3 linked regions of the Homo sapiens genome follow. The protein of the gene in region 3 interacts with the protein of the main gene of each other region in a pairwise test. Each region holds a gene or a part of one and is shown on either strand. Other genes may lie near its edges. The genes, in order: URM1, RGS14 and VIPR2.

What was found.
Region 1: the proteins of VIPR2 (region 3) and URM1 interact in a protein complementation assay, tested with the Homo sapiens proteins (one large-scale study listed by IntAct).
Region 2: the proteins of VIPR2 (region 3) and RGS14 interact in a two-hybrid assay, tested with the Homo sapiens proteins (one large-scale study listed by BioGRID and IntAct).

What each region holds. Positions count from the first base shown.
Region 1 is NC_000009.12:128,381,374-128,385,025, reverse strand, and holds part of URM1 (ubiquitin-related modifier 1), read right to left. Parts: intron 1-3,652. UniProt on the Homo sapiens protein: Acts as a sulfur carrier required for 2-thiolation of mcm(5)S(2)U at tRNA wobble positions of cytosolic tRNA(Lys), tRNA(Glu) and tRNA(Gln). Serves as sulfur donor in tRNA 2-thiolation reaction by being thiocarboxylated (-COSH) at its C-terminus by MOCS3.
Region 2 is NC_000005.10:177,370,459-177,373,197, forward strand, and holds the end of RGS14 (regulator of G-protein signaling 14), read left to right. Parts: intron 1-129; coding exon of another isoform or gene 130-132; coding exon 133-206; intron 207-446; coding exon 447-573; intron 574-706; coding exon 707-788; intron 789-891; coding exon 892-938; intron 939-1,016; coding exon 1,017-1,131; intron 1,132-1,414; coding exon 1,415-1,617; 3' UTR 1,618-2,138; downstream 2,139-2,739.
Region 3 is NC_000007.14:159,110,358-159,114,009, reverse strand, and holds part of VIPR2 (vasoactive intestinal polypeptide receptor 2 isoform 1 precursor), read left to right. Parts: intron 1-3,652. UniProt on the Homo sapiens protein: G protein-coupled receptor activated by the neuropeptides vasoactive intestinal peptide (VIP) and pituitary adenylate cyclase-activating polypeptide (ADCYAP1/PACAP).

The sequences.
Region 1 (3,652 bases), on a different chromosome or scaffold from region 3:
CTGCCCAGGCCTGTGCTTCCATGTGTCTCTGACTCAACACTTGAATCACGATCCAGCTCAAATGTATGGCACTACCATTACCATTACTTGAGTGGACAACTGGGGAGGTAGGGAGGGAAGGAGGGAGGAAGAAAGAGACTAAGAGTATGGACCCTGGAGTCAGACAGGCCTGGTTTTGAGCTGGACTCCATCACTTACTAGTTCTATTACCTTAGGTAATAGGAAGCCTCGGCTTCCTTTTTTTGTAAAATGGGGATGTTAACATTGTCTCATAGGGTCATTGTGGGGGATCAAATAAGACGATATATACAAAGCTCTCAGCACTGTGCCCTGCATATCAATGCTGTAATTACTCCAGGATCCAGAGGAAGAACCTATACCCCTCGCGCTCTCTGGGTTTCTGCACGCTCTGCCCAGTGGCCTGGCACCTCAGCTTTAGAGGGCAAGGTAGAGCCAACCATTAATCAGATAGTGCTGGGACCGGCTGGGGTTTTCTGTGGCATCCCGTATCTTCCCATCAGAAGCTGGAAAGGGAATGAGGGGACTGCGAGAGTAGTGAGGGGTCCTAGATACTGACCTTCCTTCTGTGTTAGATGTTTGAACCCACAAGATGTTGGGGTTGGCCAATGCTCCCAGTACAACCCAGGTGGTAGGAATGACACTCTGAGTCTGTAGGTGCTGGCGGCCAGGCTGCCCCCGGGCACACAGCACCAGAGGAAGGAGATGGGCACTTAATACAAGGTTTCCAGTGCAGGATACCTTGGCACCTGGCCTGCCCATCGGGGGCAGAGCAGGCAATGAGAGCTGCTGCTCTATGCTGGAGTGGTTGAGTTCTGAGTCTACAGCCAGAGGACCTCGGCTGTGTGCTCGATGGCCTTAGCTAGGAAGTCACTTCATCTTGCTGTCTCAGTGTCATCCTCTGACAAGCAGGGATAATAATCCAAACACCAAGAGCTGCTGAGGATTACGTAAGGCACAATGCCCAAGGCAGGCCTGGCAGTGTCACACACACAGGACACGCTCAACAGATGGCTGCTCTGAGCTGTAAGCCCACAGTGACTTCAGATTCCTCATCCTCTGGGCTCCAGTACCTTCTAAAGGCTGCTGCCAAAGGGAGGATACCCACTGTGGAGAGCACCGACGCAAGCTCCACCAGAATCCCTCGCCCCGGTGGACTTGTCCTATTCTGGGGGACACTGACTGCCCACTGTGGGAGGGCCCCAAAGGGTGTCAGCCTCAGCCTCGTGGGACTGAAACGGAACAACCTCAAAGTCGTATCTGATATTGACTCGCAGGCGTAACAGACCCTCATCCAGCCTCTCTTTGAACACCTCCAGGGACAGGAGGTCAGCTCCTCTGTGGAGCGGCTCTGATTGTTAAGAGCTCTTTTCTCCCAAGCAGAAATCTGTCTTCCTGTCATTCCCACCCACTGGGCCTGAATGGTCCACGGGGACCATGCCAACAAATGCACCCCCTCTTCCCCAGGATGGCCCTTCAGATTTGGAAGAAAGGATCCCCTAAGTCTTCTCTTCCACAGGTTAAACTGCCTCTGTCCCCACCAAGTCCACCAGGCTCCAAGACGGCTCTTCGGAGAGCCCACCCCAGGCCTCAGTTGAAAAGGGAAAAGAAAGAGCTGGCAAGGGGGGAGTAACAGAGGAGAGGGGGTGGAGGGAACATCAGAGGGGCCATTTACAAGTGAATGGGGGTAAGAATGGAGCAGTTTGTGGGCTAAACTGGCCTCAGAAGGAGGTTTACAGATGTGCGAGGGGACCTCCTCATTGTTTAATTAAGCAGAAAGTGGATCTTTTCAAAAGCAATTTTGCACAGGGACTGGGAGGGGTGTGGGGAGGAGGGAGGTGGAGAGGGGATCAGCAAACAGGCCCTGAGAGCAGAGAAAGGAACAGCTGGCCCCAGAGAGGCTGTGAAATGCATGCTAAGCAGTTTAAAGCGCCCAGGAGCTCCTGCAGCTCCTGCCCTCCCTCACCAGCCACCCTTTAACACAAGTGGAGCAGGCAGAGGGGGCACAAAGGCAGGACAGGGGAAGACAGGCAGGGAAAGGTGAGGCGGCCATGTCTACACTTGGGGCCTGGGCAGGGGGCCTTGGGTCAAAGGGATGCTTGAATCACAGAGGCCAACTCCCAGCAGCCGCAATACCCTAAGCTGGTGGGTGCCTGCATGGCCGTTTCAGCGAGATGGCTGTTAAGACATCCCTTCTCTCACACAACTTCTTACTGGGTCAGCACACTCTGCTTCACCGAATTGTATATACTTGGATCTTGAAGAAACTTTTCTTATAGATGTCAAAGAGACAACCAGCTCAATAACATACAGAGCGAGCCCAACCTCCCATCTTACAGATAGGGAAGAAAGAGTCTGGCAGGAATAAGTGATGTGCAACTGCGCGTGCCAGGCTTCCTCTCTCGCAGTCTCACTCCCTCAGGCCTTGCTCATCATTTCTCCCAAATTGGCTGGGTTGGAAGCTCTCCCCTGGCCTAGGAGCCACGAGTTCCCTCATTTGTGAGGCTTGTCACATTCTGAAATCTTACGGCTGCTATTATTTCTGCTGGAACCTCCAAGACTCGCTTGGCCAAGTGGCAGCCCCTAGGCTGGGAAGTCTGCCAGATGACATATCTGGGCATGGACTTGGGGGAAGGGTAAGACTCTCCTAGCAGCACCAGGCCCCTGACCCCCAGCTGGGCTCACATGTGCCAGGGTGAGGCCTGGCAGCTGCTAACCAGCTCTGTTGGTGACCTAGGTCACCAACCTAGGTTACCATGGGTCTGCTGTGTGACCCATGCCTCTGGGCACAACAGGAACCAGGTGTAGGGACTCACAGCAAAGGAGCCAAAGACTAAGTGGGCCATTGTGCCTTCCCTCCCACTCCCCTCCTTTCTTCCCAGAGTGGGGATAGGCCCCTGCCTGTTCCCTGAACAGTGGCTGGAAGATGAAGGATAAAAAAATCTGAGTCCCAGCCCAGCCTCCCTACTTGGGTAACTCTGGGCAGGCCTCAGGTCCCTCCCTCCTTCTCTTTCTCTTTTAGGGGTCTCTTATCTCTTGGGGTCATCTGAAAGTTGAAATAAGTAGTTGTTGAACTCATGAATAAATAAATGAAGGAAAGCGTAAAAACTGGAAAATGTAAGATGTTAGAGTAATTCAGGGAGCCTCTTGGGATAGACGGTGATGGGTTAGTGGCAAAGCGCCAGGACTCTGAAATTCAGTGGCCTGAAAGCTAGTTCTGAATCCCAACCCTGCTATTTAAATAACTCTATGACTTGGGGTGAGACCCCTGACTTCTCTAAATTTTGGTTTCTACCTTTTATTTGTTTTGTTTTTTGTTTTTGAGACGGAGTCTTGCTCTGCGCCCAGGCTGGAGTGCAGTGGCACGATCTCGGCTCACTATACAACCTCCACCTCCAGGGTTCAAGCGATTCTCCTGCCTCAACCTGGGATTACAGGTGCCCACCACCATGCCCAGCTATTTTTGTATTTTTAGTAGAGACAGGGTTTCACCATGTTGGCCTGGCTGGTCTCTAACTCCAGACCTCAGGTGATCCGCCTACCTTGGCCTCCCAAAGTGCTGGGATTACAGGAGTGAGCCACTGCACCTGGCCTTGGTATGTTACCTCCTTAAAGAGACCTCTGCTGACCACCT
Region 2 (2,739 bases), on a different chromosome or scaffold from region 3:
CTTCCACCCTCCATCCCTTCCTCTAGGAAGCCCAGTGGTGGCCATGGGAGGGCGTGAAGTTGTTCTCAGACCCACAGGGATGGCTGGGGGTTGGGGGAGGGACTCTTAGACCCTGCCTGGCATCCACAGAAGGCCCTGGTCCTGGATCAGGACTGCACCGTGCTGGCGGATCAGGAAGTGCGGCTGGAAAACAGGATCACCTTCGAGTGAGTGTCCTGCCCCCAAGTCTGGGTCCCAGGTCCTGACGCTCCCTTCAGGCCCTGTTCTAGCTACCTGGCTCCCCAGGCCCCGCCCCTCGTGCTAGCCCCGCCCCTGGGACAAACCCCGCCCCCTACAAGCCAGTCCCACCTTCTGCAGTTCAAGCTCCACCCCCTCGCGTTTGTCCTGGGAAGGGTTTGGCGGGGGGCCGGCCCTCCGGCCCTCTGCTGCCCGAGGGTTCCTCGCAGGCTGGAGCTGACGGCGCTGGAGCGCGTGGTACGAATCTCAGCCAAGCCCACCAAGCGGCTGCAGGAGGCGCTGCAGCCCATTCTGGAGAAGCACGGCTTGAGCCCGCTAGAGGTGGTGCTGCACCGGGTGAGCTTCCGGGCCGCGGGGCGGGGCGGGGCGGGGCCGGGCCGGGGCCGGGGCCGGGGCCGGGGCCGGGGCCGGGGCCGGGGCCGGGGCCGGGCGGAGGCCTGTACCGCGGGCTGCTGACCTCTCCCCACAGCCAGGCGAGAAACAGCCTCTGGATCTGGGGAAGCTAGTGAGCTCGGTGGCGGCCCAGAGACTGGTTTTGGACACTCTTCCAGGTAGGGGACGCTGGCCTCGGGGCTTGATCTGGAACAGCTGTGGCCCAGGAGGAAGGGGGTCCAGGTGGGAGGCAAACACTAACTGTGGCCCTCTCTGCTGCAGGTGTGAAGATCTCCAAAGCCCGTGACAAATCTCCCTGCCGCAGCCAGGTGAGCGAAAGGCGAGTGGCCTCTTCCACCCTCTGCTTCTCCCCTCCCGATTTTGGCTCTGACCCCAAATTCTCGCAGGGCTGCCCACCTAGAACTCAGGATAAGGCCACCCATCCCCCTCCAGCGTCCCCCAGTTCTCTGGTGAAGGTGCCCAGTAGTGCCACTGGAAAGCGGCAGACCTGTGACATCGAAGGTACATGGTGGATGAGCTGGGGATCAGAAAGACTAGGGCAGTGGGGTTGGGGACCATTCAGGGTGGCATCAGAGAGCCTTGAGCTAAGGCAGGGGGCTGGGTGCCACTGGGCGTGGAACAGGAAGGATGGGGGTTGGGGGGTCAAAGGGGCTGGAACAGGGGGCCGCAGGCCATTGGTGCTGGGGCCAGGGAGGCAGTGGCCACAGTAAGGCAGTGGGACTATCGTGGGCTGGCATATAGGCAGGTCTGCTGGGGGGACCCTCATGCTGTGGCTTGCCTCCAGGCCTGGTGGAGCTGCTGAACCGGGTGCAGAGCAGCGGGGCCCACGACCAGAGGGGCCTTCTGAGGAAAGAGGACCTGGTACTTCCAGAATTTCTGCAGCTGCCCGCCCAAGGGCCCAGCTCCGAGGAGACCCCACCACAGACCAAATCAGCAGCCCAGCCCATCGGGGGATCCTTGAACTCCACCACCGACTCAGCCCTCTGACAGCTACCCAACAGTCCAGGACAGCTGCATGGCACCCGGCGGGCCGAGCATGCCATGGGTCCGCTCTGCATGCCCTGTCTGTGCCATGAGTGTCCCTGGCCCCTTCCTGCCATGGGCAGGCCCGCAGGAAGAGCCGGTAGGGGTGGAAAGGGGACTCAGATGAGACACACCCCACAGCTGCCACCGCCTTGTCCCTCAACAAGCTCACCCCCAATCCCTTGCAGCCAGGCCACAATGGGGGAGGTGAGTCCAGCCCCTTGGAACAGGCTTGCCCAACATGGAGGGATGGCGTTGGCAGTGCCAGCCTCCCCAGCCTGTGCCAAGCTTCAACAGGGGCAAGAGGAGGGGCCGGCCCCTCCTCAGGAAGCTGGTATGAGTAAGGCCTTGAGGGTGCAGGCAGGCAGCCCTGTACCCCACCCACATAGACTATACTGTACATACAGATTTTGCAGTAGGCTTGGGGCAGCTGGGTTTGTCCTTGATGTATGATACTGTTATTATAATAATTATTATTATTCTGCCATGAGTTGTCTTCCTTGTGTGCCAGACTGTCCTGTGGCTTCCCCCACCCTCAAAACACACTACTTCTGTCACCAAGGTCAGTGCCAGGAAACTCTTGGGGACCTCAGGATGTGCCTCCTGACTTCCTGTTTTCAGAACCTCTCTTCCTGACTGCACAGTATATGGGGTGGTGTGTGAATATCTTATAGTATTTTTTTTTTTAAGAATATGGGAGCTGGGTGAGGTGGCTCACACCTGTAATCCCAGCACTTTGGGAGACCAAGGGGGGTGGGGGTGGATCGCTTGAGCTCAGGAGTTTGAGACCAGTCTGGGCAACATGTCAAAACTCTGTCTCTACCAAAAATACAAAAAATTACCTGGGTGTGGTGGTGCATGCCTGTGGTCCCAGCTACTTGGGAGACAGGTGGAAGAGGATCACTTGAGCCCGGAAGGCGAAGGTTGCAGTGAGCCGAGATCGTGCCACCGCACTCCAGCCTGGATGACAGAGTGAGACCTGTCATGGTGTGGAGGTGAGAGAGAGGGCGGGGAGAGGTGTGGGGGTGAAGAACCCTGTGGGGAGCTGTGCCTCTCCATCATGTTGCTGTTGTACTGTGGTCTCTG
Region 3 (3,652 bases):
ATGATACTACAAGGCTGTATGAAGATAATAGTCTCCGGCCCCTCGTCATCCCCAGTTCTCAGCCCTATGGCAGCATCTCTTTCATCTCTTCTCTGGTATTTATTTTATTTCTAAACAGCATACTTATGCTCCTGTTTCTTTTCTTTCTTCCTCCCAATTTACATCCCAGTGTCCATTAGATTTCTAACAAGAATAAAGATCTATCTCTCCTGTGCCATTCCCACCACCCAAGTATAATTTATCATCCTGCCAGCCTCCTGATAGACTCACTTCACATTGCTGGTGTACATCATTGCCATCACAGTTGAGCCACATAATATCCAGCATTTCCTTTCTTCATAACTTTATGCTTTTCCTCGTTTTTCTGTTGCTGGGTTTTTCACCTACCTCTCAATAATTAGGCATCAAACCTCAGGCCAGAACACTCTCAAGACACTGCACTGAGGTGGTCTCAGGGTTCCATTTTTTCTCTTGTAGCAGGACGAGCTGCAGACAAAACCCCTCAGACACCGAGATGGTGAAGGGAGTGGCTTTAATCAGCTGGAAGCATTGGCAGACTAGCGTCTTAAAATCCGAGCTTGTCAGGTGCACAATTTTTGTCCCTTTTAAGGGCTCACAACGCTAAGGGTTTCACATGAAAGGGTCATGATTGATTGAGCAAGCCAGGGGGTATGTGACAGGGGCTGCATGCACGGGTGGTCAGAGTGAAACAGAACAGACCGGGAAGTTTCACAGTGTCTTTCTATACAATGTCTGCAATCTATAGATAACATCAGTTGCTAGGTCAGGGGTCAAATTTTAACTACCAGGCTTAGGTCAGGCAGGTCCAGGCCTGGTGTCGGGTCTGGTTCCTAGGCGCTGGGCTACCTGCCTTTAGTTTCGCTTCTGTTTCCTTTTCTGAGTATAAAACAATCTAAAACAATGTGAGAGGGTCTGTCTCTCTTCTCTCACTCCTAGAGCCACTCCTTCTGGATTCCCCCTCCTTGCCAAGTCGGGATCCTTGAGCTGGGGTCTGGCCCCAGGCAGGCATTGTGAGCCTCCTGCTCACACAGTCGGGGTCCTCGGTTGGGGATCTGGCCCCAGGAAGGCGCCATGAGCCTCCTCCTCACGGTCAGGATCCGGTCCCAAGTAGGTCCCGTGAGTCTCCTCCTCACAGTCAGGGTCGGTCCCAGGTAGGCGCCGTGAGCCTCCTCTTCACAGTCGGGGCTCTCAGCCGGGTCCCGTCCCAGGCAGGCGCCATGAGCCTCCTTCTCACAGTCAGGGTCGGTCCCAGGTAGGCGCCGTGAGTCTCCTCCTCACAGTCAGGGTCGGTCCCAGGTAGGCGCCGTGAGCCGCCTCCTCACAGTCGGGGCTCTCGGCCGGGTCCCGTCGGTTCCCTGCAGCGTCCTCCACCCTTGCCGGTGCCGGGGGTACCGATGGCCTGTCTCTCGCTTCTCCCCCTCCTCTGCCTGCCTATTTAACACAGTTGCTTCTGTCTGCAAGGCTGTAGTGACATCTCTTGGTGCTGCCCTTTCAAATTTTTGGCTGTCCTTTGCGTGAGGTTGAGAAGCTGAGAGAGAAACTCCTGTGTTCCCGCCTGGCAGCTGTTGCCAGGAGGTTGCAGCCAGTGCCACGTGTGCGACCGGCACTGTGGCAGCGCTTCCGGCTGCGCCTTCGGCTGCACTTCCGGCTGCTACCTCAGCCTCGGCGCCCTGACGCCCTCGAGTCCGCTTCCTCACATCCTGACAGCGTCTAGCTCTGCTCCCTCACGTGCGGTCCAATAAAGGAACAAATGAAGAGAAGACTTTCCCTGGCCATTGAAGGGATCAGATGATTAGCTCTAGATGTTTAAATCAAATCCTACTGTAATGCAAAGACTGTTTGATGTGGTATGAATTTAGTATCTCTGTTGAAATTTAAAGCAGCAATTAGTATTATACAGTATATAATTATTGCATTATAATTTGTATTATGTATTAGTTATCTTACTATACATTATCTTATTTATTGTTTATTTATTGAGACGAGGTCTCGCTCTGTCGCCCGGGCTGGAGTGCGGTGCCATGATCTTTACTAACTGCAACCTCGACCTCCCAGGCTCAAGTGATCCTCCCACCTCAGCCTCCCTAGTAGCTGGGACTATAGGCATGCTCTGTTACCTCCAGCGAATTTTTAAATATTTTCTGTAGAGATGGGGTCTCGCTATGTTGCCCACGCTGGTCTTGAAGTCTTGGGCTCAAGGGATTATCCCGCCTCAGCCTGCCAAAGTGTTGAGATTACAAACATGAGTCACTACACCCAGCCCATTATTTTAAAATAACAATATTATATAATTATTGCTTTTTTTTTTTGAGACGGAATCTTGCTCTGTCACCCAGGCTGGAATGCAGTGATGCGATCTCGGCTCACTGCAACCTCCACCTTCTGGGTTCAAGCAATTCTCCTCCCTTAGCCTCCTGAGTAGCTGGGATTACAGGTGTGTACCACCACACCCGGCTAATTTTTGTATTTTTAGTAGAGACGGGGTTTCACCATGTTGGCCAGGCTGTTCTCACACTCCTGACCTCAAATGATCCACCAACCTCATCCTCCCAAAGCGCTGGGATTACAGGTGTGAGCCACCACACCCAGCCATTACTATTATCAAGGTAGAAATTTGTCATTTTGTGATAAAAAGCTGAACCTTCAAAATAACCAGACACGAAACTGCCAGAGCTTGCTGTTTTATAGGAGATGGACAGAACTTTGCTGATCACATGCAGAGTCTTCACTTGGAGGCCTAGACATCTTCACTTTCCTCTCCATCTTGTTCACTCTTGGCTAGGAACCCCATCCTGACACCTCTCCACCACCTGCCCTACACACCAGAGTTAGAAGTGCTTGGTTTACGAACTTAGCATTTAAATAACTCTACTACTTAGACTCTAAGCAGCCTTACACGGGGGCTCACGCCTGGAGTTTCTAGTGATGCATTTACATTTGATCACTTGTTTTGAACATTTTAAAAGAAAACCAACATTTTCTTTAAATATGTTAACATTAATGTAATATGAATTTATGTACTTATTCAAGTATTGGTATGTAATTTTATTTTATAATAAATATATTTTCACTTTTATTGAAAGTATTTAGAAACTATTTTCATCTGCAAAACTTAGCTTATGGCCAGCTTTTCAGAGACATTTCTGTATTCTTGAAAGTAAAACACTCCTTTGTTCACACCAAAGCTGTGTGTTCTCTATGGATGTATTCCTGCAATTATTGCACAGGTCTGGGTGGCATGTGCTGAAAGGAAAACTGATTGTTTGTTTGTTTGTTTGTTTGTTTGTTTGTTTTACCGACCAAGGCTAGCACATTGCTTTTCTGATACTGAGGTTTAAGTAAAAGGTAAAATTTTAGAGGTCTCAAATATAGTATAAATACCATGGACAAGTAGGAAAGTCCTGGGTTTAACATGCATTCCATCACTGTTGTGTGATATTGAGAATTCATTAAAAGATTTGAACCTTAGTGCTTTTCATCTGGAAGATAATTAATGCAACATTTTTATATCTAACCTTCACCAGGTGGTTATTAAGACCAAATAGTAGGTCTAAAAATGTTTAAGCTATGCATTATGCAAATTATTTGACAACTCCATGAAGGTAACCTAAGATTTTGTTGCTAATAAGGC